7 linked regions of the Homo sapiens genome follow. The protein of the gene in region 2 purifies or fractionates together with the protein of the main gene of each other region. This does not show direct contact. Each region holds a gene or a part of one and is shown on either strand. Other genes may lie near its edges. The genes, in order: TMEM59, ACBD3, PDCD6, ARFGEF1, GOLGA3, STK26 and XPNPEP3.

Region 1 (3,500 bases), about 170 Mb from region 2:
TGTTCATTCTAGTGGACTGTTCTATCTCAAGTATAAAACTGCAGTAGTCCAAATCACATGCTCCCTGTAATTTCTTATAGAAACAGTTTCTTGAGAGGTTTTATCATATATCATTACAATTATGTGGACCTTACAAATTAATACTTTTTACTAAGCAAAATGTTTAAAGACTATGTGAGAAAACAAGGATTAAACTTTAAATTTTATCCTTCGTTCATTTCTAAACCTGGTTTTGAGCTTGTCCAAAAAAGGGCAGTTTTTCTTTCCAGTATTTAGGATGTATGTTGCAGTTTGATAGTTCTGTGAAACCTAAATAATTATTTAATCTTAAGTTACAGTTCTCAGTACTGTACTACCTGGCATATTATTGGTGATTTATTGACCTTTAACATTTTGTCATTATATGTTATGTTGTTTTTTTACATCTAACACTTTAAAAGTAATTTTGTGAAGCAACTAACTTTATAATGTATTTATAGAAATGTATTTCTTAGAAGTTTCTGTGCCCAAACATAAATTATAATAGGATCCTACATTTGAATAAAAATTATTCTTTTGGCCGAGTGCGGTGGCTCATGCATGTAATCCCAGCACTTTGGAAGGCCAAGGTGGGAGGATCACTTGAGCCCAGAAGTTCAAGATCAGCTTGGGTAACATAGTGAGACCCCATCCATCTCTACAAAAAATAAAAAAATTAGCTGGACATGGTGGCACACACCTGTAGTCCCAGTTGTCAAGAGGCTGAGGTGGGAGAATCACTTGAACCCAGGAGGTTGAGACTGCAGTGAGCTGTGATCGTGCCATTGCACTGCCTGAGTGACAAAGCGAGACTGTCTCAAATTTTATTATTTTTTTAAGTGTTCTTTTTTTAAATGCTTTTTCCCCTTCAGTGATCCCATTTGACTTTTAGAACAATACCCTGTGATAAGTAGGTGGTGATTTAGAGAGGTGAATTGACTACTCGCAAGGTTATACAGTCACTATGTTAGCATTCAAACCTAATTTTTCTAACTGTACATCTTCTGCTCATCCTATTCTGCTGTAACTATTTACTTCCTAAAGTGTCATGATTTTTCCATGATTACATACAGAATCACTCAGCCAGTTATTGGAATCTGGTCGTAGCTGTTAAAGAGACACCCTTGTCTCCAGAATGGAAATTGAGGTCACTCTTTCTTCACTTGCATTTCTTTTTGAGGAGCCAGGCACTGTGCTAGGGAGTTGAGACCTAGTAAAGATGTCAGGAGTTCTCAGATCTAAACAGACATGGACAATAATGATTGCTATACACACACACAGTCCTACACATGTCTCATACACAGCATATAAGGACTGTATTTAAGTCTACTGGAGGTTTCAAGGGGAGGATTGACAGGTGAGATAGAAATATCTCAAGTGATGAGTAGAAATTTTTGCTAGTTATAGCAGAAGATTTACTTAAAATTTTTTTTTCAGATATACTGGCCTCCTGCTCAATGTGTATAGGGTACATTACTATATATGGAGGATAAGGAGAGTCAGAAATTTGACTGAACTGGGAAAACAGGAATAGAGAGAATCAGGAACATAAGTGTCAAGAAGAGGCTTCTATGTGAAGGATAGATTAGAGGACCAGGTTGGAGAACTTTGGTAAATCAGGGAAGAAATTATGAGGTCTGGATTAGGGCAGTAGATAAGAACAGGAGATAATGGAGATAGTTGAAAATCTGTAGGATCTAGTCATTGTTTTGTTGTGGAGATTGAAGGGATGAGCCCCAGTTTTCTGGCTTAGGTAGTTGCTACTGGAATCTAGATATCAAATATATCCTCATTTTGTGGTAAATTCCTTAGTACTCAGGTTACTTAGGGCTGGAACATGGAGAGGAAAGTGGGTATTTGTTCATTAAAAACATATTTTACTCTATTATCTTTCTAAATTGGATACTTAAAGAATCATATGGGAGTTCCCTGCTTTTAGATACAATACATTCTCCAAAGTCCACCTCTTTTGCTGGCAGACAAACAATGACTGTGCTTACTGCATGTTCAAGTCTTGGCAAACTATCAAGTGAGTGATTAGGGTGGTAAGTATAGATCTCTTACTAGGCAGTGTTGGATGAGCAGAGATGTGAAAATTAGGGAGTATCTGTATTACACAGTTTGTCAGAGTTAGACTTTTAATTATTTAAAAATGGCTTGACTTTTTCCTATTCTTTGAATCTTAATAGGTCAATTATGAAAAAAACTCCAGGTGGGAGAATGGCTTGCGCCCATGAGTTCAAGGCCAGCCTGGGCAATATAGTGAGAGCTTGTCTCTATAAAAATTCAAAATAAATAAAAATAAATAAAAAATCTCTAATTGCTGATTCTCATAACTGGCCTTCTGTCTTAAGATATTTTAATTATAAGGAAAATATAACTATCTCTTTACTGAGATATGCTGTAATGGTTACAGAATGCCTTATAATAGCTGTGCTTTTTTAAATTGAAGTATAAGTAAATTATGGCAAATTGAATATGTAAAGTATTCTAGGGAAACTGACTTCTGGAAGCCTGGTGTGAATTCTTTTATAAAACAAATGATCATTTTAAATTTACCTATTCTATACCTTAACTTTTTGGTATATTGGTTTTCTTAAAGCAAGTATCGTAATAACTTGCAAAATAATATATGACATTTGTACAACAGTGTACAATTTACAGGACACTTTCACTTGCCTTATATATTTAGCAGAAAGTCAAGTATATCTGATTTTATTATTATTACAAAAGTGATATAGCCATGTTACAGAAACATTAGAAGTGGAGGAAAAAGACTTTATGCCAACCTAATGTAATAGCTATTAGTATAATATTTCCTTCTGTAAGTATGTTTTTTAATAGTTTCAAAGATAACCAACAAAGTTTTAATTGTACTGTTGAGCTAAGTACATAAGGTTGACTAATTAAGAATTTCCTGTTTCTTATAAAATTTTAATATAACTAATTGTTGATTTTTTTTTTCCAGTAACTCTGGGTGGATTTTAACTACAACTCTTGTCCTCTCGGTGATGGTATTGCTTTGGATTTGTTGTGCAACTGTTGCTACAGCTGTGGAGCAGTATGTTCCCTCTGAGGTAAATTTAATTCTTACCATTTGAAGACTGAGCCCTGTGATATATCATTTTAAACACCTTATTTGTTTAGCTGGAAAAACAAGGCCTTTCTACTAATAGAAAGAGAGAAGATGTGGTGGTTTTAATGTGGTAGAGGTTGGCACACATAAAAATTACAGGTTTGCAGCACAAGAATTGTTGTTCTCAGCTTTCTGTGATGCTAACTACCGTGGTGACATATATGTTGACTGGCTTGAGAACGGTGTCTCTTTCTGACTCTCTAAGACTGAAAAGACCTGTTGACATCAGTTTCTAGGGGATATATGGGAAAGAAGACTTTTTTTTTTTTTGAGGCAGAGTCTCATCTGTCACCCAGGCTAGAGTGCAGTGGCCAGGATCTTGGCTCACTGCAACCTCTGCTTCCTA
Region 2 (3,500 bases):
TCCTGCAACTGGCGGATGAGAATTTGCTGCTGTTCGTAGTTCCCTGGATACTGTTGGGCTGCATACTGCTGGAACTGCACGGCAGTCTGGGAGTTTAAAGCTGCCATTATCTGCTGCCTAAAAACATTAAAAATATATATACTAGTCTGGCTACAGGAGATTGTTCATGACAAAATAAAATGTCCTTATTACTTACTTTTACAGTCTGTAACTCTTAAAAACAACTAAGCTAGTAATGTACACCAATTAGTATGTGTTCTGGGTCCAGAAGAAAGATTTAAGAAAATAAGCCTGGCCTCTAATTTTTTACTTAGGATTTTCCAGGAAAATTCGGGATGGAAGATAAGCATATGATCATCATCATCATGACCACCATCATAATTATTAACATTTATTGTGCCCTTACTATGTGCCATGCAGTGTTGAAAGTACTCACACATACTAACCCATTTAGTCCTCACAACAACCCTCTGACAGAGGGTTCAGTAACTTGCCCAAGACTATACTGCTAGCAGATGCTACAGCCTGATGCAAATCCAGGCAGTTTGGCTCTAGAGCTACACTAATTTACCACGATGCTTTAAGATGATGGATTGTCATCTCTGACATAGATGAGGTATTTAACTGTTGGCTATGGCTTCTGTACCTAAATACATAAAAAACAGTAAGAGGCAGAAGAATAGCTGGAAGATGTTACAGGTGGCCCTGGTAAGTATAAATAAAGCCAGTGAAAAATTAAGGGTCCACAGCATTTAATTTAAAGCCTGTCTTAATAGAGGAAATACTGAAAATATCTTGGCATGCTTAGTTTAGAGATACTCATATTCTTTTATAGATAAACCACATGCTTCTTCTTTTTTTTTTTTTTGAGACGGAGTTTCACTCTGTCACCCATGCTGGAGTGCAGTGGCGTGATCTCAGCTCACTGCAACCTCCACTTCCTAGGTTCAAGCGATTCTCCTGCCTCAGCCTCCCAAGTAGCTGGGATTACAGGCACCTGCTACCACGCCTGGCTAATCTTTATATTTTTAGTAAAGACGGTTTCACCATGTTGGCCAGGCTCGTTTCAAACCCCTGACCTCAATCAAGTGATCCGCCCGCCTCGGCCTCCCAAAGTGCTGGGATTACAGGCATGAGCCACCACAGCCAGCAACCACATGCTTCTTAACTTACTTATGTGACCAACTTAACAGAGACCTCAAAGCCATCTATTAATAGATAACAAAGCAAAGCCTCACAAACTCCTACATACAGCACAACATTCGATCCACCTAGGACAACCTCCCCCAAAAAAGAGCTGCATTCATAGTCTTTCTCCAAAGTTGAATGAGGGCCTGGATTAGTTTGAGGCTAGCACTAAACCTTTTTCTGAGGAACTACCCAGAAATAATGAGAAGAAATCAATGGACTCTCATGTTCTCTGGTTTAACCTACAAGCCATGCCACCCCTACAAACTCAGACTTACTTCCCAGTGTTTTATGGGTGTTAATCACTGCCTCCTTGTACCCACAGCTCCCTCTTGAAGAACCTGTCAGTCTCTGAGTCTCAAAGCCCTTACTGAGTAAGCAATAGTTGAAGCCTCCAAATCTTGTACTAAGGACTATAAATGGATATCTGACATAGACTGGACCAACAAGATTCTCTGTCCTGGGAAACTGCAACTGGGTCTCACAGATTCCAGCCAGTCTCTGTCAGATGCATGGAAACATAGACCAAATAAATCCTCGGACAGCCTTGCATATGCCAAAGCAGACAGTTGACAATTTGCAGAGAGCAAGGATGAAGCAGAGACATAAGCTGAGAGAAGCAGAGACAAGAAACAGAGAGCGCAACCAAGCAACCTCAGCTCCTGCTTCCAATCTCTGGGTTCTGCAAGTGAACCCCCAAACCTTCTAATACATTCCTTTTTTTTTTTGAGACGGAGTTTCACTCATTACCCAGGCTGGAGTGCAATGGCGCGATCTCGGCTCACTGCAACCTCCACCTCCTGGGTTCAAGAGATTCTCCTGCCTCAGCCTCCTGAGTAGGTGGGATTACAGGCATATGCCACTGCGCCCAGCTAATTTTTTGTATTTTTAATAGAAACAGGGTTTCACTGTGTTAGCCAGGATAGTCTCCATCTCCCAACCTCAGGTGATCTCCCAACCTCAGGTGATCTGCCCGCCTCCGCCTCCCAAAGTGCTGGGATTACAGGCGTGAACCACCACACCTGGCCCGCTCATTTCTTATTTTTATTCTATTTTTTTTCCATTTCTCATTTTAAAACATAAGCCACATAATAAACTTACTTTTGCTGCTCCAACCGAAGCCTTTCTTCTTCTATCCGTCTCCTTTCCTCTTCCTCCCGTCGAAGCCTTTCCTCTTCTTCTCTCCTACGTTTCTCTTCCTCCTTTTGCAGACGTTCTCTTTCTTCCTCTTCACGCCGCCTTCGCTCCTCTTCCTCCTTCCTACAAGGCAAAGATAGAGAATGAACCCTATACGTTGAATCCTGTTTAAAAATAAAACTTTAGCTCCCAGGGAAAACTGACATGACCTTTTTAGAGAACAATGTGGATATATACATCAAAATTTAAAATACATACACTTTACTAGCAGAAACTTATAGGGAATCAATCGCACAATATACAAATCACATCAAGAATAATTATTGTTGCACAGCAACAGAAATGTGTCCATCATAAGAAACTACTTAAGTCATTATGATATTCCTATACCCTGAAGGATCCCCTCTAATATATGCTCACAGCACTAAAAGCTTTTCCTTCATAATACCTGCTGTCATTATAATTAAATTTGTGTGATACATTCAGCAATAGATCTGCATTACCCATTAAACTAGATGCTCCATAGGGGAAGAGACTGCCTATCTCACACCACGACATCCTCAGGGCTTAGCACAGTGCTGGAAAGAACAAGCACTCGACAAACGTGTACAGAAGTAAAAAATCCACCCTGAAATATCGCAGAGCCAAAGGATAGAAATACATTGCCTAATATGTAAAGACATGTAATACACTTGCTTAATGAAAAAAAAAAAGGTGAATACAAAGGAAAAGATCTGGAAGGACATACCCTAAATTTATCAGTTATTATCTATGCAGAGGAGAGTGGAATTAAAAGAAATGTGGGAAAAAAGATTTTTTTCAGTTTGTGTTTCATATACTGCCATAAATGAAAATTTTATATTGCATATATTTGTGTATTATTTCTGAAATTAAAATTTTTTGTAAAGCTTTTAATTTAAAAAAGAACGGTTAACCTCTCAGGGCAGCCCTTGCCCAGCTTTCACCCACCCCACAAGACCCTTCCAAAAAGAACAGATCCTATTGTGCTAGGAATGGACATCTTCCGGGTCTGAGAGTGGTATGGTGTTCAGGGAGCCTGCAGACAGGATGAAAGGGAAGATTTCTAAGGAGTATCAGATAAGACACTATTTCATAAACCTACCACGAGAATTGTCTGGGCTACCTCACCTTTCTCCCCTCTAACTCCTATAAGT
Region 3 (3,500 bases), on a different chromosome or scaffold from region 2:
CCCTCACTGGTGTGCACGGGGACGGCGGCCATCACTGGGGTGCACGGGGACGGCGGCCATCACTGGGGTGCACGGGGACAGAGGTCATTACTGGTCTCCTGCCAAGGCTGGGGAAGGACAGAGGAGATGCTGACAGAGGCAGAGGAACTCCAGTCTGCACAGACAACAGGAGCAACCCCACTGCCTCTGGAATTAACTTCCAGTTTCCTTGGTCATCAGTAATAGTGAAGGGAAAAGAAAGGCAAAGTCAGACAGCAAAATGAGGGATGAACAAACGAACTACAAAAAGAATGTTTATCTGAGAAGCCAAAATCCAGAAGCAACTGTTTCTGAGTTTCTGTTCATGAAAGTCAGTCCACATGAGGCCACCAGCGTCCCTGGGCCCACCCCTGACACACCCCTTGCCAAGGTCTTTCTCCTCTTTCGGACTCTCTGAAATGCTGTGAACGAGCCAAGCGGAGCATGACCTCCTCAGAAATCACCTCTTCCACCTCGGAGGACAAACCAGCTGCCCCCACTCAACAGGCTGAGGCTCCCTGGGGCTCCCCCCAGCTCTTGGGGGCCTGGTACAGTGGCAAAGGACCACAGCGGAGGAACTGTTCTCCGCCCGACTGCCTTTGTCAGACACGCACTGCCCACCAGAGGGGAGAATCTCACCGGCTGTTTACAGCAACCTAAACGGCACGTGCTGAGTCAGCTGTCCCGGTGCCGGGTGGTGAGTGCTGGAATGTGAGCACGCCTTCCTCACCTTTTCACTTCAGGTCTCTGAGCATGGCACACAGTTGATGTTAACAATAAAGGCTTAAAAAAACGAATCGGTGGATTATGAAATCCACCATGTGGCCCCATCAGAGACACCCGGGGAGAAATCTCGCAGGCTTCACCACCCTGGTGATTCCCTCCTGCTGGCCACCAAGCTCCAGTGCAGCCTCCCTGCTTCATCTGAGAGCAGAACACTTGTTCACAGGGGCCAAGACAAAAGAAGAATTTTTGCTTCTGAGGCCAACTTCCTAACAGTTACTATGGGAAATCTTTCAAAATCATCAAAATACAAAAAGGATGACAATGCCCCTTTCCAAGGAAGACGTGGGAGATGGCCCTGGAGATCAAGAACCAAACGCAGGAGGAAACTCGTGAGGGTAACCAGAGAAAATGCTGCGATGGGATGCCGCACCCCAGGAAAAACCTGGAAGTCAGGAAGGGTTCTGCCGCTGCACAACACAAGCAGGCCTGCCCACTCCAGGGCGGGAGGAAGGCTGCGTGACCGGCCGTGCCTCCCGCCACAGCTAAGCACAGTTTTCTGGGAAGTCCTTGGCCAGACCAGGACGAAGAGGGCCTCAGAGACCAGGGAGCACTGTCCACAGCAACTTCCACTGCACATTCTGAGGACCGATGGTCACTGGCATGGACAAAGGGAGCTCCAGGGCCTGACAAGGTTAGGAAAAGATGTCCGTGGCGCCAGAGGTCGCTTATCTAAAAATAACTTCAGGCCGGTCCTGAAGTCCACGTGGCCCTGGCCGCAATCGGCAGCACTGGCCTCCCTGGCCCCCAGGACCACTCTCTGTGGAGGGTGGCATCCTTCCCTCCCAGCCCTTCCGTACCTGCCCCAGGGAAGAGGAGCCGGCCAGCGTTCCCTCCAGTTCCCCCACCCAAGGGCACAGCAAGGTCAGCTGCATTCCAAGTACCAATTCAGAGCCATCCAGCCCAAATCCTGGCTCGCAGCTGGTCAGCTCAGAACTGCTTCTTGAGGAGACCCAGTGTCCACCCCCGGCCCTGTGGACAAGCTCGTAAGGTGAGAAAGAAAAGAGAAAGAAAGGCAGCCACAAAGTGCATGCTGGGAGGAAACACGAGGAGAGGCGACGTGCTTAGATAAGTGAGACTCCAGGGATCTCGGAGGTACTCAAGTAGAATCGAATTTTCCTCACTGTTTCTAAGGAGCCTTTTAAGCAAATCACGGAAGCGGCTTCACAACAGGGGCCAGATGAGATCCGCATGGATTAGAATCTCGGTGCAGCCACCAACAGCCTCAGGCTGGCCCCAAACATGCCCGTTGTTCCTCTGTAAATAAAACCCCTGCTTCCTCTCAGCCCTGAGAGCAGCACGGGAAGCCCCGTGGACAGGCCCTATGGACGCACTCTGGACAGGCACTGTGAACACTCCTAGACCCACGGCACACCGTCACATGTGTGTGTGCACACGCGTCAAGCACACACACGCTGAGCGCACCTGAGAATGGGCACGCGTTCTGCCTAACGCCCCTTCTGAGGCGCACGGCACACGTGTGCACACACACGCCGAGCACACACACGCCGAGCACACCTGAGAATGGGCACGCGTTCTGCCTAACGCCCCTTCTGAGGCGCACGGCACACGTGTGCACACACACGCCGAGCACACACACGCCGAGCACACACACGCCGAGCACACCTGAGAATGGGCACGCGTTCTGCCTAACGCCCCTTCTGAGGCGCACGGTTTGGACCTGGTGACTGACAGCTGTTTCTTAGGTGACTGTTGCCTTTTCAACGTGCTTTGATCTATCATGAAATATAAGCTGCCCTGCCCCACGGTATTTTCATGGATCCACTTTTAAATGATTTCAAAAGCCACATTCTCAGTTTTGCTCACGACATCATTCCACTTCAGAAAAGATGAACGGCTTGCATAGCCCTTATCTCATTTTGGATAAAAACCTGAATAAACGTATCCATGTCGAGGATCGCCTTCCGACATGAGCAATATCAAATATGAACCTGCATGACGTCAACAAAAACTTTACGTAGCCTGGTTAGACAATCAGTTAAGTCCAACAAGGTTTAAAGAACTTCAACGGCTCCAAGGTTCCAAAATGAAACACGCTACACAAGCCAGAGTGAGTGAGTTACCGAAACCTGAGAGGGCCTGCTTCAGCTCGTTCTTATCGATCATCCCGGAGTTGTCCCGGTCGTACGTGCGGAAGACGTTCTGCCAGTCCGTGATGTACTTCCACACACCCGTGAACTCGCTGAAGTTCACGCCGGCCTTGTTCTCACGGTCAAACATGGCTGAGACAGAGAGGAACGGTCAAGCAGCAAAAGATCAGTTGCAGCAAACTCACTTGAGGCTTCCCACCAGACCTCAGCCCTCAGAGCCTGGCGGGGCCCCACTGCTGACCACTAACCAGGGACTGGGCAATGCATGCCTGTCTGTGAATGGGGTGAAATCCCTTAAAGTCTTGTCACCTTCGCCCTGGGTGGGGGTGTGGGGGATTGTCCCCCAGCCCTGACCCCCTAAGTCCCAGGAGAAGGTGCACTTGCAGCTGTGAGGCAGGCCGTGCAATGGGATGTGTGAGGAAATCCAGCCGCAGCCACGACAGAAAGAAGAGCAGAGCTTCACACTCAGCTTCCGAGGCACGGGGAAGGTAAGTGGCCCCAGCTCCCCTGGCTCCTGGGTCTCGGCCTAGAACGCGAATCTAATTCCCAGAGCTGACCCTCTGACTCTCCAGGGCCCACAGCACTGGT
Region 4 (3,500 bases), on a different chromosome or scaffold from region 2:
AGACAGTAAAACATTTTCATCCTGCCTTTTATATGTATTTTAGAATGTTTTAATGATAGAATTTTCAGATGATATAATAGGATATTTTCTACTGAGAATAACACAAAATAATTTCAATTTGTTTTGTCTGTTTTTTTTTTTTTTTTTTTTTTTGAGACGGCGTCACGCTCTGTCACACAGGCTGGAGTGCAGTGGCGCGATCCTGGCTCACTGCAAGCTCCGCCTCCCGAGTTCACGCCATTCTCCTGCCTCAGCCTCTCGAGTAGCTAATCTCGTGTAGCGCTACCGCGCCCGGCTGATTTTTTTTGTATTTTTATTAGAGATGGGGTTTCACCGTGTTAGCCAGGATGGTCTCGATCTCCTGACCTTGTGATCCTCCTGCCTTGGCCTCCCAAGGTGCTGGGATTACAGGCGTGAGCCACCGCGCCCGGCCTGCCTTGTCAGGTTTTTTGCAGGGAGGTTTTTTTATCAAAGAAATGAGCCTTTCACTTGTCTGGTTCTTTTCCTGGAATAGGAACTTTGTGGATGTAGTGAAAGATCTCAAGGTGAAGTTGAGATCCTCAACTTAGAGCCTTTAGGTGGGCCCTAAATCCAGTGAATGGTGTCCTTTTAAGGAAGAGGAAGGGACACAGTCACATACAAAGGAAAAAGTCCATGTGAAAATGGAGACGAGATCAGTTACTGCTGCCACATGCTATGGAATGCCAGAAGCCACCAGAAGTAGGAAGAGGCAAGGAGGGATTCTTCCCTTTGGATGTAGCATAGCTCTGCTGTGACCTTGATTTTAGATTTTGGGCCACCAGAACTATGAGAGGAAATTTCTGTTGTTTTAAGCCACCAAATTTATGGTAATTTATTAAGGCAGCCTTAGGAAATGAATGCAAGTTCCCTTTTATCCTAACTTTTCAGACCCATTTTGATTTCTTTATTCAAGTTTCCACTTACAGAGTCTACTGTACATATGTTTACACAATCAGATCCTGTCTTTGGCTCATCTCTGATTGTTTCATGAATCTAGAAAGCAGTTATTCTGAGGCTTTAGTGTGTTATAAGTAGAGGCTCTTGAAAAGCTTCTTAAAAGGTCTGGGCTCAAGTATTTAAGAATATTTAAAAAGTTTTGTGTTCTGCTTTTGATATTTTGTTTTGCTTAGACTTAGACTTGATGTAACTAAATTTGTTTATATAACCTATGTTATCTTTTCATTCAGAAAAGTCTTTGAAAATCTTTAAAATGGCCGGGCGCGGTGGCTCACGCCTGTAATCCCAGCACTTCGGGAGGCCGAGGCAGGTGGATCATGAGGTCAGGCGTTCGAGACCAGCCTGGCCAGCATAGTGAAACTCCGTCTCTACTAAAAATACAAAAAGTTAGCCGGGCGTGGTGGCAGTGGGCGCCTGTAATCCCAGCTATTTAGGAGGCTGAGGCAGGAGAATCGCTTGAACCTGGAAGGCGGAGGTTGCAGTGAGCCAAGATTGTGCTACTGCACTCCAGCCCGAGAGACAGTGCGAGAGTCCGTCTCAAAAAAAAAAAAAGAAAATCTTTAAAATATTTCATATTACCACTGGCGTGTCTTTAGGAAACGCCATGTGAGGCTATTAATTTTTCTTAACAAAAATGTGTACATTGAGACTTCATTTAATCAGCTGTTTAACAATCCTCATCTGTCAGAACTTTGCTAAGAAATAATAAAAATATAAGCAGTCAAAGTACATATTTTGAAGGCCAAGCACTTTATATAGAAGAGAATCTCTATGGCTTTTACTCAGTCTGTATGCTTTTATAATTCCAGTAAGTTTGGTAATTTGATATTTTTTATAAACGAATCCTTCAAATCATTTTCAAAAGTGTAACTACAACAATAAAATTTACTGTGATACGGGGCCCGGCGTGGTGGCTGGCGCCTGTGATCCCAGCACTTTGGGAGGCTGAGGCGGGCAGATCATGAGGTGAGGAGATCGAGACCATCCTGGCTAACACAGTGAAACCCCGTCTCTACTAAAAATACAAAAAATTAGCCAGTCGTAGTGGCGGGCGCCTGTAGTCCTAGCTACTTGGGAGGCTGAGGCAGGAGAATGGTGTGAGCCCGGGAGGCGGAGCTTGCAGTGAGCCGAGATTGCGCCACTGCACTCCAGCCTGGGTGACAGAGTGAGACTCTGTCTCAAAAAAAAAAAAAAAAAAAAAATTTACCGTGATACTCTTAGCTGAAGATAAATAACTACTGTTAACTTTTTGAAAAACAACTTTCTGATAAATGATTTACATACTATAGTATTTACTTTTTTTGAGTGTAATGATTTTTGGTAAATTTACTGAATTATGCAGCCATCAGCATAAATCCAGTTTTAGAACATTTCTATTACCTCAATAAAATCTGTAGTGCCCTTGTTGTCATCCCTAGCTTCTGGCATTCACTAATCTATTTTCTGTCTTTAGAGTTGCCTTTTCTGGACATTTCATGAAATGCAGTTATACACAGGTGGTCGTTAGTGTCTGGTTTCTTTCAGTATGTTTTTGAGGTTCATTCATGAAGTTTGTATCCACACTTCATTTCCTTTTATTGATGAATAGCATTCCATTGTTTAGATATCCTATATTTTGTTTATCCATTTACCAGTTGATGGATATTTGGGTTGAATGAATAATACTGCCATGAATATTTGTGTATAAGTCTTTGTGTGGACGTAAACTGTTATTTGTCCTAGGTAGACAAACTGGGAAGGGAATTGGTGGGCCACTTGATAAATTTATGTTTAACTTTTTAAGAAACTGCTAAATTCTTTTCCAGCCTACATACCCACCAGCAGTGTATGAGGCTTCCCGTTTCTTCAAATTCTCACCAATATTTGTTACTGCCTTTTTATTTTTAGCCATCCTAGTTGTTATGATGAAGTGTTACTTCATTGAAACACTGTTAACTTTTTGAAGTACAGATTAAATATCCTTTATCAGAAATGCTTGGGATCAGAAATGTTTTCAATTTTGTTTTTTTTTTTTTTTTTGGACTTTGGAATATTTGCATATACATAATGAAATATCTTGGGGATGAGATTGAAGTCTAAACACAAAATTTACTAATGTTTCACATCCACCTTATACACAATCCAAAGGTAATTTTATGCACTATTCTTTTTTTTTTTTTTTTTTTTTGAGACGGAGTTTAGCTATTGTTGCTCAGGCTGGAGTGCAGTGGTGCGATCTCAGCTCACTGTAACTTCCGCTTCCCAGGTTCAAGTGATTCTCCTGTCTCAGCCTCCCAAGTAGCTGGGATTACAGGCATGCGCCACCATGCTCAGCTAATTTTGTATTTTTAGTAGAGATGGGGTTTTGCCATGTTGGCCAGGCTGGTTTCAAACTCTGACCTCAGGTGATCCGCTGACCTTGGCCTCCCAAAGTGCTGGGATTACAGGCATGAGCCACTGCACCTGGTCTTATGCACTGTTGTTAATTTTGTGCATGAAACAAAATTTTGACTGTGTTTTGACTGTGACCCATCACGTGAGAT
Region 5 (3,500 bases), on a different chromosome or scaffold from region 2:
CTCCAGGTCCCAGCACGACTGCTTCAGGGTGTCCACCTCCGAGCTCAGCGAATCCTGCCGCTGCTGGCTGCTGTGGCTGCACTCCACCTGCGCCTGCAGCTTCGTGCTGAGGGCGGCCAGCTGGGCCTGCAGCTCAGCCTTCTCTTTAAGTGCCTGAAAAGATCCCAACAACCACAATGATTTTAAGAAAACGAGTCACTTCCATCCAGTGTATTAACAGGAACACAACCAGCGAGTCAGTCAGGGCCTGACAGGGGACCCCGAGACCCCCAGGCGCTCTCCCAAGGCCTGACAGAGGACCCCAAGACCCCCAGGCGCTCTCCCAAGGCCTGACAGGGGACCCCAAGACCCCCAGGCGCTCTCCCAAGGCCTGACAGGGGACCCCAAGACCCCCAGGCGCTCTCCCAAGGCCTGACAGAGGACCCTGCCCCGAGACCCCCAGGCGCTCTCCCAAGGCCTGACAGGGGACCCCGAGACCCCCAGGCGCTCTCCCAAGGCCTGACAGGGGACCCCGAGACCCCCAGGCGCTCTCCCAAGGCCTGACAGGGGACCCCGAGACCCCCAGGCGCTCTCCCAAGGCCTGACAGGGGACCCCGAGACCCCCAGGCGCTCTCCCAAGGCCTGACAGGGGACCCCGAGACCCCCAGGCGCTCTCCCAAGGCCTGACAGGGGACCCCGAGACCCCCAGGCGCTCTCCCAAGGCCTGACAGGGGACCCCGAGACCCCCAGGCGCTCTCCCAAGGCCTGACAGAGGACCCCGAGACCCCCAGGCGCTCTCCCAGCACAGCCGTCACAGAAAAAGGCGACTTTCCAAACAGGCCCAGGACGCACAGGGAGCCTGCACTGGTTTTGGGCCCAACTGCACCTGCACAGGGCAGCGCTAGGGCAGGGCTGGGGAAGCACCCGTCTCCTGCGAGGACACTGGAAACGTGTTCAAAACACCAAACGTGTACACGGGTGCACATGTATGCGCACACACACAGAATGCCAGACGTGTAGAGGGACCCCTGAGAGATTAAAAGCGGATTCAGATCTGGGGGGAAATGGGCAAAAAACACAGGCAGGGAAAGGCGGCTGCCTAAGTGCGGCTCCAGCCAGAGCCACGGGACACAGCACAGTCCTGAGTGGCCACCGCAGTGCTGTGTGGTCCCAGGAGCAGCAGAGAATCGCCAGAGGAAATCGCCCCACCACCTGCCCCCACGCTGAGGCCTACAGGGGCAGGGATCCAGTTCACACATCACCAAGACAACAAACACCCAAAGCAATTGAGGAACTCCACAAACTCCAGGAGACCCTAGAGCAAGGGGCCAGCAACCACCACACCTGAAACAACCCTCACGATCTTGGTGTGGATGCAACCGAAGGACCAATCAGTGATCCTAAGAGGATAAGAAGACAAAGTGCAGTGACAGCAAGCCACCGTTCGAGAGAGTGGCTACACAGAGGAGGGGAAATGCATCCGACGGAGGGAGGCTCACGCTGTAACACTGGAGAAGTGACGACCGTACAACCAGAATTAGCCTCAAAACAGCCGAAATCACCTCTTCTGTAGACACAGCTTTAGGTGTCACAAACTGGTTGGTTTGTGTCCAAGGACCATGTTGTATGAGAAAACCATCTTCGACATGAGGCGTGCATTTAGCAAGGCAAGCTCCGGACACTGTGAGCAGCTCCAGCCCTGCTCTGCGGCCTCGCAGGCCACAGGAGGCTCCCTCAGCTGTGTCACCTCAGGGCCTGGGTGCATTCTCACCCTCCCACGCCAGAAGCGGACAGCTGAACCCCACTGAACAGATTTACTCAACTGCCGACAGAAGATAAATACCTAGCTCTTCACTGTGGATAAAGTGCATACGACAAAATGACAAAGGAGAGCTGAAATAAGGGATGGAAAATGATGTTTCTGGCACATGCTAACCAAGCCAGCGTGTGCAGCTTTCTCTGATACAGCACAATTAGTATCAGAAAAAGCAGAAATCACTACAAAGAAAAAAGGTTCACCATGCCAGAAAAAGCTGCAACCCACCAAGAGAATTTGACTCTTATGGACTGTGAGACACCTAACATCTAGCAAATATTCTGGTAGAGACGCAGGGAGAAACACGCCCATGCACGATGAGGCAGAAAACTCACAACTCTTTCTAAGGCTGACAAGTAGACAAAAAACGTAAAGATGCAGAACCCTCGGCTGCCACACATGCTGCGGCGGCTGATTCCCAACCACATCTGTGAAACCTCGTACCCAACAGAGGAGCCACACATGCTTTCCGACTTCGCCGCACGCTGAGATGTCAGTCGAACGTCCGTTACCTGACTCGCCTCCAGTGACAAGGCTTCCAGCTGTCCTTCGAGTCGCATTTTCTCTTTGAGCACCTGCAGCATCTCCTCCTGTGTTTCTGCTGCAGAGCTCTCCAAGGACACGCTGGGGACAAAGGCACGGGTCAGGCCTGTGCGAGCCATCCTCATTTTCTTTCACACTCCTCCACATTCTCCAAATTCCACACACCCCTGCTGCTCTCTCCCAATTTTTTAAAATTAAGTAAGAGATTTAAGTAGAGAGCTGAGGCTTGCATGATGCACGGATGAACATTCCTGCCAACAGTTGGCACCTCACGCAGTGGGAACTGTTACAGAAACATGAGACATGCAAGCGTCGTGCAGCTTAGTGACAAGTCTATGTAAACGGGAGACTGGATATTTTAGTAACACAGACCATTGCTGATCTAATTCTACTGATTAAAAAGCAGCAGACTTGTTATGAATTAAATGTTCATGTCAAGACTAAGGATAGAATCAGGAAGAAAAGCTGTGTATCACCTGTTCCAGTGCGGAGAGCCGTGGGCCCGGGAAGCAACATCTCAGGCCAGGCCCTCTGCCTGCCCTGCCCGTCTCTGCCCACCCCGCCCCCTCTGTTGGCCCCACCCACCTCTGCTACCGCCCCACCCACCTCTGCCCGCCCCACACCCCCCTCTGTTGGCCCCACCCACCTCCACCCACCCCGCCCACCTCTGCTGTCCCCACCACCTGCTGCAGATGCTGTCTCTCCGACTCCGCACCTCCCCGTTGACCTCCTGCCCCTGGTCTTGGTGCTCAGCGGCTGCGGCCTGGAGGACGTCCTTAATGGAGGGGAACTGGCCCAGGGTATCCGCAGGAATCTCCTGGCCGTTGACCATATAGGGGGTGTCCTGCGTGCCCACTGTCTTCGACAGAATGCCATAGGTCCCTCGGGTGGAGGCGCTGCTGTACGATGAGCTGTCGCTGTCATTTCCATCCACCTCAGACACGCTGTCTCCAGCCAGGGAGGTGTTCTCCAGACGGTCGTCAGTGTCGGGGGACAGGCTGATCTCAGACACAACGGACGCCGCACTGCTTCTGTTCTGCTTCAGGGAACCCTTGGTAGAATCGGGAGCCGGGACATTTCCCCCAGAATTCCCCGCATTTGAATCTTCAGTTCTGTAATCGGCCAGAGACCGGATTTTGCTTGATTTGGAAGTTTTTTTCTC
Region 6 (3,500 bases), on a different chromosome or scaffold from region 2:
AAATAGAAGAGATTTCTATAGCCTGGGACATTCAGAGAGAGTTCATGAAGAAGCTAAGATGGAGGACCTTGAAAATCAGGTAGAATTTGGCCAATCACTGGTTATTGAACTGTGACTGGCATGGTAGAATTAAAGGGATTTCTTGTTGGGATGTAGTGGGAACTAAGTATAGATCTACAGAGAGGAGCCATATAACAGAAAGTATGGAAAGCTGAGCAGAGGGCTTTGTGTCTCATTGGGGTGGTGTGGGGTGGTGATTGGGTTTCAAAAGAAAAATGTGGGTTATCAAGCAGGAGAGAGATGAGATAATGGCAGTGTTTTCATGTGATTAGCCAAGCATTGTTTTGCAGGATGAACTGCCCCCCATACATCATAACACCTTTTACAAAGGAGCTCCAACTCCACAGATGATGGTTAATTCATCCTAATAACCTCTCATTGAGGCAAAGGAAATGCAGCTTTTATTATTCCCCATTTTGTAGATGATTTGCTCAAGGTCACTGAATATGAAAAGCAGAATAAAAAATACAATATCACAATGTTCAATTGTTCCTAAGTACCAGCTAAATTATATTCTCTCATTTGCTGTGACTCAAGCAAGAGAAGTACATGATGACGGACCTTTGTACTCAAGTGCCATTTCTAAACTCTGATTACTGTTGAAGGCACATGTCCTATCATACCCAATTCCTGTTTATTCTCCCTACAGTCCCTACTCCCCTAGTGTCAAAAGTTCTAACTAACCCCGCCTTCTCTCAGCTAACAGTCTTTGATTATTTTGTTCCAGCTGGTCTTCTGCCATTATCATTAGCATATTCAACACCTCTGCATTAACTACTCAATAACAAGGACAATAATTCGGGTTCACCAATGCAAAGCAATGCTTTCAACCTCAAATTGCAAATCTGATTATCCCCTTAGGGAGGTGTAAGGGAGGTAAGAACTCCACATACTGGACTCTGGTACCAACCTGAATTCTTTCTCCAATGTAGGTTTCCGGATGACTGTTAAGTAAAGAATCCCCCCATCCCCCACCCCAGTTAACTCTCTCTCTAACTTGACACACGTTCTCATCCTTTCATACATCTTAAAGCCACCCTTACTTTTCTTACACCCTTACTTTTCTTACAACCCTTACTTTTCTTACAACCTTACTTTTCCTGTCTCATGAGGGCCCTCACTTCCACATATTCTTTCTGGCATTATGAACCTCTCCCTCCTTGATGTCTCTAGTCCTTCATTTTCAAGTGAAGTGCCCGGCATAGAGTAGATGCTCAGTAAATATCTGATGAATGACCAAAGCTTCAGTTCTACATTTTCAACTACTTATTGGACATATGTACTTTGTCATCCCATTGTTACCACAAAATTCACAAGTCTAGAACAGAAATCCTTAACTTCCTACCAGATCTGGCTCTTCCCCACTACATTCCAATTTCTTTCAGATGTATCATAAGTCTCCCAGTTCCCTCCTATTAAACACCACAGTCTTTAACTTTTCCTTCTGAAACTAGCTAATTATTAAGCCTGGTAATTAATTTTTTCTTCATAGTACTAAACATATGTCCATGGAACCTGTCCATGGAAGGCCCATTGCATCTGTATAACTATGATTGACCCATTGAAATAGCCTCTGTAGCCAGGCGCAGTAGCTCACGCCTGTAATCCTAGCACTTTGGAAGGCCAATGTGGATGGATTGCTTGAGTCCAGGAGTTGGAAACCAGCCTGGACAACCACTAAACATTGTCTCCAAAAAAAAAAAAAAAAAACCATAAAAATTAGCCAGGCATGGTGGCGTGCACCTGTAGTTCTAGCTGCTCTGGAGGCTGAGATGGGTGGATTGCTTGAACCCAGGAAGTGGCGGCTGCAGTCAGCTGTGATCGCGCCACTGCACTACAGTCTGGGTGACAGAGTGAGACCGTGTCTCAAAAAAAAAAAATTAAAAAAGAAGAAATAGCCTCTGTAGATCAAACTGCCTTCCCCTCTCAATCCTCCAGTTGATTCATTCATCCAATTTTGAGATTTCTCTTTCGATATATAACTTGGTACATTGAGTCTCCCTTACTCAGAAATGTTTAATGGCTAGTTCAAAGGCCAAAATCCTTCCCTGGCATTTAAGGACAATCATGATCTGTACTCAATCCAGTTTTCCGACCTTATCATGTATCATTTTTCTAGAGGAATTCTCTATGACAGCCCAAATGACTTTATCCTGTTCTCAAAGATTGTGTGTGTGTGTGCATGCACTCACAAATGCAGTGCACCTTTCCTTATCTATATTGTATACATATGCTCCTTGACTTAAAATGTGGTTACGTCCCAATAAACCTATCATAAGTTGAAAATATTGTAACTTGAAAAGGCATTTAATACAGTACACCTAACCTACCGAACATCATAGCTTAGCCTACCTTAAACGTGTTCACAACATTTACAGTAGCCTACAGTTAAGCAAAATCATCTAATGCAAAGCCTATTTATAACAAAGTGTTGACTAGCTCATGTTATTTACTGAATACTGTATGGAAAGCGAAAAACAGAATGGTTGTGTGAGTACCATTGTAAAGTCAAAAAATCCTAGTCTGTCTACCTCTGCTGGGGATTTTTCCTTGCTTGGAAATGCCCTGCCCAGTGTGCATCCTAACAAGACTTTAGGGTCAGCTTACTTTCTGGAAGCCTTCAACACTTCCAGTGAGAAACTTCTATTATACTTACAGTGAGTTCACAGATTTTGCATTATTTGATATTTCATGTGCTAGTTTTAACAACTCAACAAGATTTTAAGATCTTTAAGGGTGGAACATGTAATATACGTCAGTATGCTTCCCAGAACCCAGTGATTATGTTCACCAATGTCGGGCAGTGTTTCCCACCACTTAGATAAAAGTCTTCAATAAAGTGATCATTAATCGTTAAACTTCATTTCTACTTCTCATCTCAAATGACAACTAGATTTAAACTGTACCACCTTGGTCATATTTAAAGATACATGAAGGCTAATTTTAAAGTTCTTTAGCAGAAGCTTTAAAAGTTCTTTAACAAGAGGCACAGCATAAAGCATAACATTTAGTACTCTAACTCAACATTTAACTTTATTCTTCCACCTACATCTTACGAAAGATTTAACAATCAACAATATTCTAAATGAAACTTGTCCTCAAAAATACTATTGTAGGCTCTAAGGGGAAATATCTTAAACTTAAGTATGATTTATAACTGAAAACTTCAAAGAAAACAGGGTTTGAATCATTAAAGAGTAAATATTTGAGTGGAAAGAAACAGGTTTATTGGTTTTTTTTTAAGTTGTACTTTAAATATTTTCAAGAGTTCAGCTACTGGTATGGAAAATTCCTCTAGTTACACACTAAAGAAGTAAGCACAAATTAAGTACAAAAAACTTCATACCCTCAACATTTGGTGTAACGTGGCAAAAAATGTTCGTTACCACAATATTAAGAAATATCAACAATATGAGTTTGAATAACTAATTCATAAGGAA
Region 7 (3,500 bases), on a different chromosome or scaffold from region 2:
TGAAAGGTTTAAAAACCTTTAAAAAAGTGAGCTATGATTTCATACACTTTGAACGTGTAGTAGAGATTGTTTTACTTTTTAAAAATTACAACAATTGGCCGGGTGCAGTGGCTCACGCCTGTAATCCCAGCACTTCGGGAGGCCAAGGGAGGTGGATTGCCTGAGATCAGGAGTTCGAGACCAGTCTGGACAACATGGTGAAACCCCGTCTCTACTAAAAATACGAAAAAATTAGCTGGACGTGGTGGCATGCGCCTGTAATCCCAGCTACTTGGGAGGTTGAGGCAGGGGAATTGCTTGAACCAGGGAGGTGGAGGTTGCAGTGAGCCGAGATCGCGCCACTGCACTCCAGCCTGGGTGACAGAGCAAGACTACGTCTCAAAAAAAAAAAAAATTACACGACAATTAAATTTCCATCTATCGTAAGTAGGAAGGTGTTTCCCATGTAGTATATATTTAGAACCATTTTTATTTTAAAAATGAAAATATGTAGGACATAGAATCACATAGGACATAGAATCATAGAATCAGTGCATATCCAATCAAAGTTTTCTGGATTTTTTCCCCTCTACTTTCCCCAAAGTACTTTTTAGTCATATAAAATATTCAGACCTTCTCACTTGGATTGTTAGGAATACTGTTTGTAGCCTACTGTTAGAAAAAAAGAACAAATGTAGATCTGATATTAAGTGCAAATCATTTTTATAATGAGCCTTTATATCGTATATCTTAGGCAAATACAGACCATTTCCTTAGGTCTCTAAAGTTGAAAGCTGAACTGTGATTGTTTACAAAGAGAATGTATAGCAGATGCAAAGGGAGAAGTGAGGAAATATCAACTGTAGTTTTTCCATAGCAATGAATAATTGCTCCAGAATGGGAGGAGAACCCTTTCCTCTAGTACTGAGATCATTATGTGAAAGGATGGGACACTTTACCCATAAAGTCATGATCTGAGTATGTTTTTCTGTCCTTCTGTGTGCAATTATTCAACAAGTGCCTCTAGCTCAGTAAGTGGTGGTGAAGAACAGTTGTTCTAATTGTTTAATAATGAAGGCCGGGCATGGTGATTCACGCCTGTAATCTCAGCACTTTGGGAGACTGAGGCGGGTGGATCACAAGTCAGGAGTTCGAGACCAGCCTGACCAATATGGTGAAACCTCATCTCTACTGAAAATACAAAAATTAGCTGGGCATGGTGGCGGGCACCTGTAGTCCCAGCTACTTGGGAGGCTGAGGCAGAAGAATCGTTTGAACCTGGGAGGCGGAGGTTGCAGTGAGCTGAGATTGTGCCACTGCACTCCAGCCTGGGCAACAGAGCAAGACTCCATCTCAAAAATAAAGAGAGAGAGAAAGAGAGAAAATCAAAGCTTGACTAAAGCTTTAGTCCCGTATCATCCTTTATAAAGAACACTGAAGTTTAGGGGCAGAAAAGCTGTATATTCAGTCTTAGAATATCTTGCCATTTCCAGGGAATGACCTTTCTAATGATTTATAATCAAACCTTTATTGCTTCAGTCCTGAGAGAGTCTTAAGTCTCAACACTTTAGAGTTCCACGTTACAGGTTTTATAGTTTTGACTCTTGTTCAAGTCGTTATGACAGTTGATATTTCTTGTTGCTGGTAGTTTTGTTTTAAATTTATTTTTCGGCTTCTCATTCTAAGCTGAGACGAACATGGTTTGGTATGACTGGATGAGGCCCTCACATGCACAGCTTCACTCTGACTATATGCAGCCCCTGACTGAGGCCAAAGCCAAGAGCAAGAACAAGGTTCGGGGTGTTCAGCAGCTGATACAGCGCCTCCGGCTGATCAAGTCTCCTGCAGAAATTGAACGAATGCAGATTGCTGGGAAGCTGACATCACAGGTATGATTCCTATTGAAAAGTTTTTTCCAGCCGGGCGCGGTGGCTCACGCCTGTAATCCAAGCACTTTGGGAGGCCGAGGCAGGTGGATCATGAGGTCAGGAGATCGAGACCATCCTGGCTAACATGGTGAAACCCCGTCTCTACTAAAAAAACATAAAAAATTAGCCGGGCATGGTGGCGGGCTCCTGTAGTCCCAGCTACTCGGTAGGCTGAGGCAGGAGAATGGTGTGAACCCGGGAGGCAGAGCTTGCAGTGAGCCGAGATCGGGCCACTGCACTCCAGCCTGGGCGACAGAGCGAGACTCCATCTCAAAAAAAAAAAAAAAAACAAGAAAAAAAGAAAAAGTTTTTTCCAGATTGGAAAAATCGTAAGCTCTTGAGGTCGTATACCCAATGCAGCAGTCTCCTCACCGCAGAATGGCATCTAGCTTCTGCTCCAGTGTGTAGTGAACATACCTAGAGACTTGCTTAATACCTTGCAAGACAAAGTAAATCTGCCTTCTGTTAAGATGGTTCTTTTACCCATCAATCTTAATTATTTCTCCTTAGAACGACAGAAATTAATACTGTTTCTTTTCCTTATAGTTACACTAATAGTGTCAGTTAAACAGTTTGGTTCTAAGAAAGACTCAGGACCCAAAGTGACAATGCTTACAGATCTGCAGTTTATTATAGGAAAAGGGTAAAAAATAACCATAATATGAAAGTAAGGATATATATCACAGCCAATGGCTGTCTCAAAGCAAGGAGTCTAGAGAAGCCAGGTGCAGGCTTCTCTGGTCCTCCCTAGGTGAGGGCCAGGCAGGATGTATCTTTCTCTTACAGATTAGGAATCACCAGTGTTGTCATACTCTGCTCAGGCTGCCATTACAAAATATCACAGTCTGCATGGCTTAAACAAGAGAAATGTATTGTCTCATAATTTTGCAGTCTGGAAGTCCGAGATCAAGGTGCCATCATGGTCCATTTCTGGTGAGGGCTCTCCCGGCTTACAGAAGGCGGCTTTCTTGCTGTGTCCTTACATGACAGTGAAAGAGGGCCTTTTTACAAGGCCATGGTCCTATCAAATTAGAGCCCCACCCTTAATTACCTAATTTAACCTTAACTACCTCCTAAAGACATAGAGATTAGAGCTTTAACACATTAATTCTGCGGGAAACACAATTCAGTCCATGGCACATGCAACAGACTACCTCAGAATCAGAGACTCCAAAATGGAATCTCAGCTAGGGATTTTTGTTTTTTTGGTCACATAATCATATTCCTGCTACGTAACAGTAAAGCCCCCCGAGAGTTTTCACAGAGACCAAGTGTAAACCATAAATCTCACTGGCAAACTGATAGAAACTATCCCAAAACTCCCTATTTCATTTATTCTCTCCAAGGTGTTGGCCATTGACTTAATTTAAAAAAATCTTTTTACTGTGGTGAAATGTGCATAACATAAAATATATCATTTTAACCGTTTTTAAGTATGCAAATCAATGACATTAAGTACATTCACATTGTTGTGCCCACTTTTTCCCGACTTTCTCCATCATTCCAAATAGAAACTGTACAGATAAATAATAACTTCCCATTCTCCCCTCCTCCAGCCCCCAGTAACCTCTACTTTCTCTGTGAATCTACCTA

What was found.
Region 1: the proteins of ACBD3 (region 2) and TMEM59 purify together in Homo sapiens (co-immunoprecipitation; one large-scale study listed by IntAct). This does not show direct contact.
Region 3: the proteins of ACBD3 (region 2) and PDCD6 purify together in Homo sapiens (pull-down; one large-scale study listed by IntAct). This does not show direct contact.
Region 4: the proteins of ACBD3 (region 2) and ARFGEF1 fractionate together in Homo sapiens (co-fractionation; one large-scale study listed by BioGRID). This does not show direct contact.
Region 5: the proteins of ACBD3 (region 2) and GOLGA3 purify together in Homo sapiens (pull-down; one study listed by IntAct). This does not show direct contact.
Region 6: the proteins of ACBD3 (region 2) and STK26 fractionate together in Homo sapiens (co-fractionation; one large-scale study listed by BioGRID). This does not show direct contact.
Region 7: the proteins of ACBD3 (region 2) and XPNPEP3 purify together in Homo sapiens (pull-down; one large-scale study listed by IntAct). This does not show direct contact.

What each region holds. Positions count from the first base shown.
Region 1 is NC_000001.11:54,036,205-54,039,704, reverse strand, and holds part of TMEM59 (transmembrane protein 59 isoform 2 precursor), read left to right. Parts: intron 1-2,986; coding exon 2,987-3,095; intron 3,096-3,500.
Region 2 is NC_000001.11:226,159,242-226,162,741, forward strand, and holds part of ACBD3 (Golgi resident protein GCP60), read right to left. Parts: intron 2,449-3,500; coding exon 2,290-2,448; intron 118-2,289; coding exon 1-117. UniProt on the Homo sapiens protein: Involved in the maintenance of Golgi structure by interacting with giantin, affecting protein transport between the endoplasmic reticulum and Golgi. Involved in hormone-induced steroid biosynthesis in testicular Leydig cells.
Region 3 is NC_000005.10:306,146-309,645, reverse strand, and holds part of PDCD6 (programmed cell death protein 6), read right to left. Parts: intron 3,045-3,500; coding exon 2,886-3,044; intron 1-2,885. UniProt on the Homo sapiens protein: Calcium sensor that plays a key role in processes such as endoplasmic reticulum (ER)-Golgi vesicular transport, endosomal biogenesis or membrane repair.
Region 4 is NC_000008.11:67,333,782-67,337,281, reverse strand, and holds part of ARFGEF1 (brefeldin A-inhibited guanine nucleotide-exchange protein 1), read left to right. Parts: intron 1-3,500. UniProt on the Homo sapiens protein: Promotes guanine-nucleotide exchange on ARF1 and ARF3. Promotes the activation of ARF1/ARF3 through replacement of GDP with GTP. Involved in vesicular trafficking.
Region 5 is NC_000012.12:132,804,870-132,808,369, forward strand, and holds part of GOLGA3 (golgin subfamily A member 3), read right to left. Parts: coding exon 3,022-3,500; intron 2,420-3,021; coding exon 2,308-2,419; intron 154-2,307; coding exon 1-153. UniProt on the Homo sapiens protein: Golgi auto-antigen; probably involved in maintaining Golgi structure.
Region 6 is NC_000023.11:132,026,302-132,029,801, reverse strand, and holds part of STK26 (serine/threonine-protein kinase 26), read right to left. Parts: intron 1-3,500. UniProt on the Homo sapiens protein: Serine/threonine-protein kinase that acts as a mediator of cell growth. Modulates apoptosis. In association with STK24 negatively regulates Golgi reorientation in polarized cell migration upon RHO activation.
Region 7 is NC_000022.11:40,884,648-40,888,147, forward strand, and holds part of XPNPEP3 (xaa-Pro aminopeptidase 3), read left to right. Parts: intron 1-1,665; coding exon 1,666-1,868; intron 1,869-3,500. UniProt on the Homo sapiens protein: Catalyzes the removal of a penultimate prolyl residue from the N-termini of peptides, such as Leu-Pro-Ala. Also shows low activity towards peptides with Ala or Ser at the P1 position.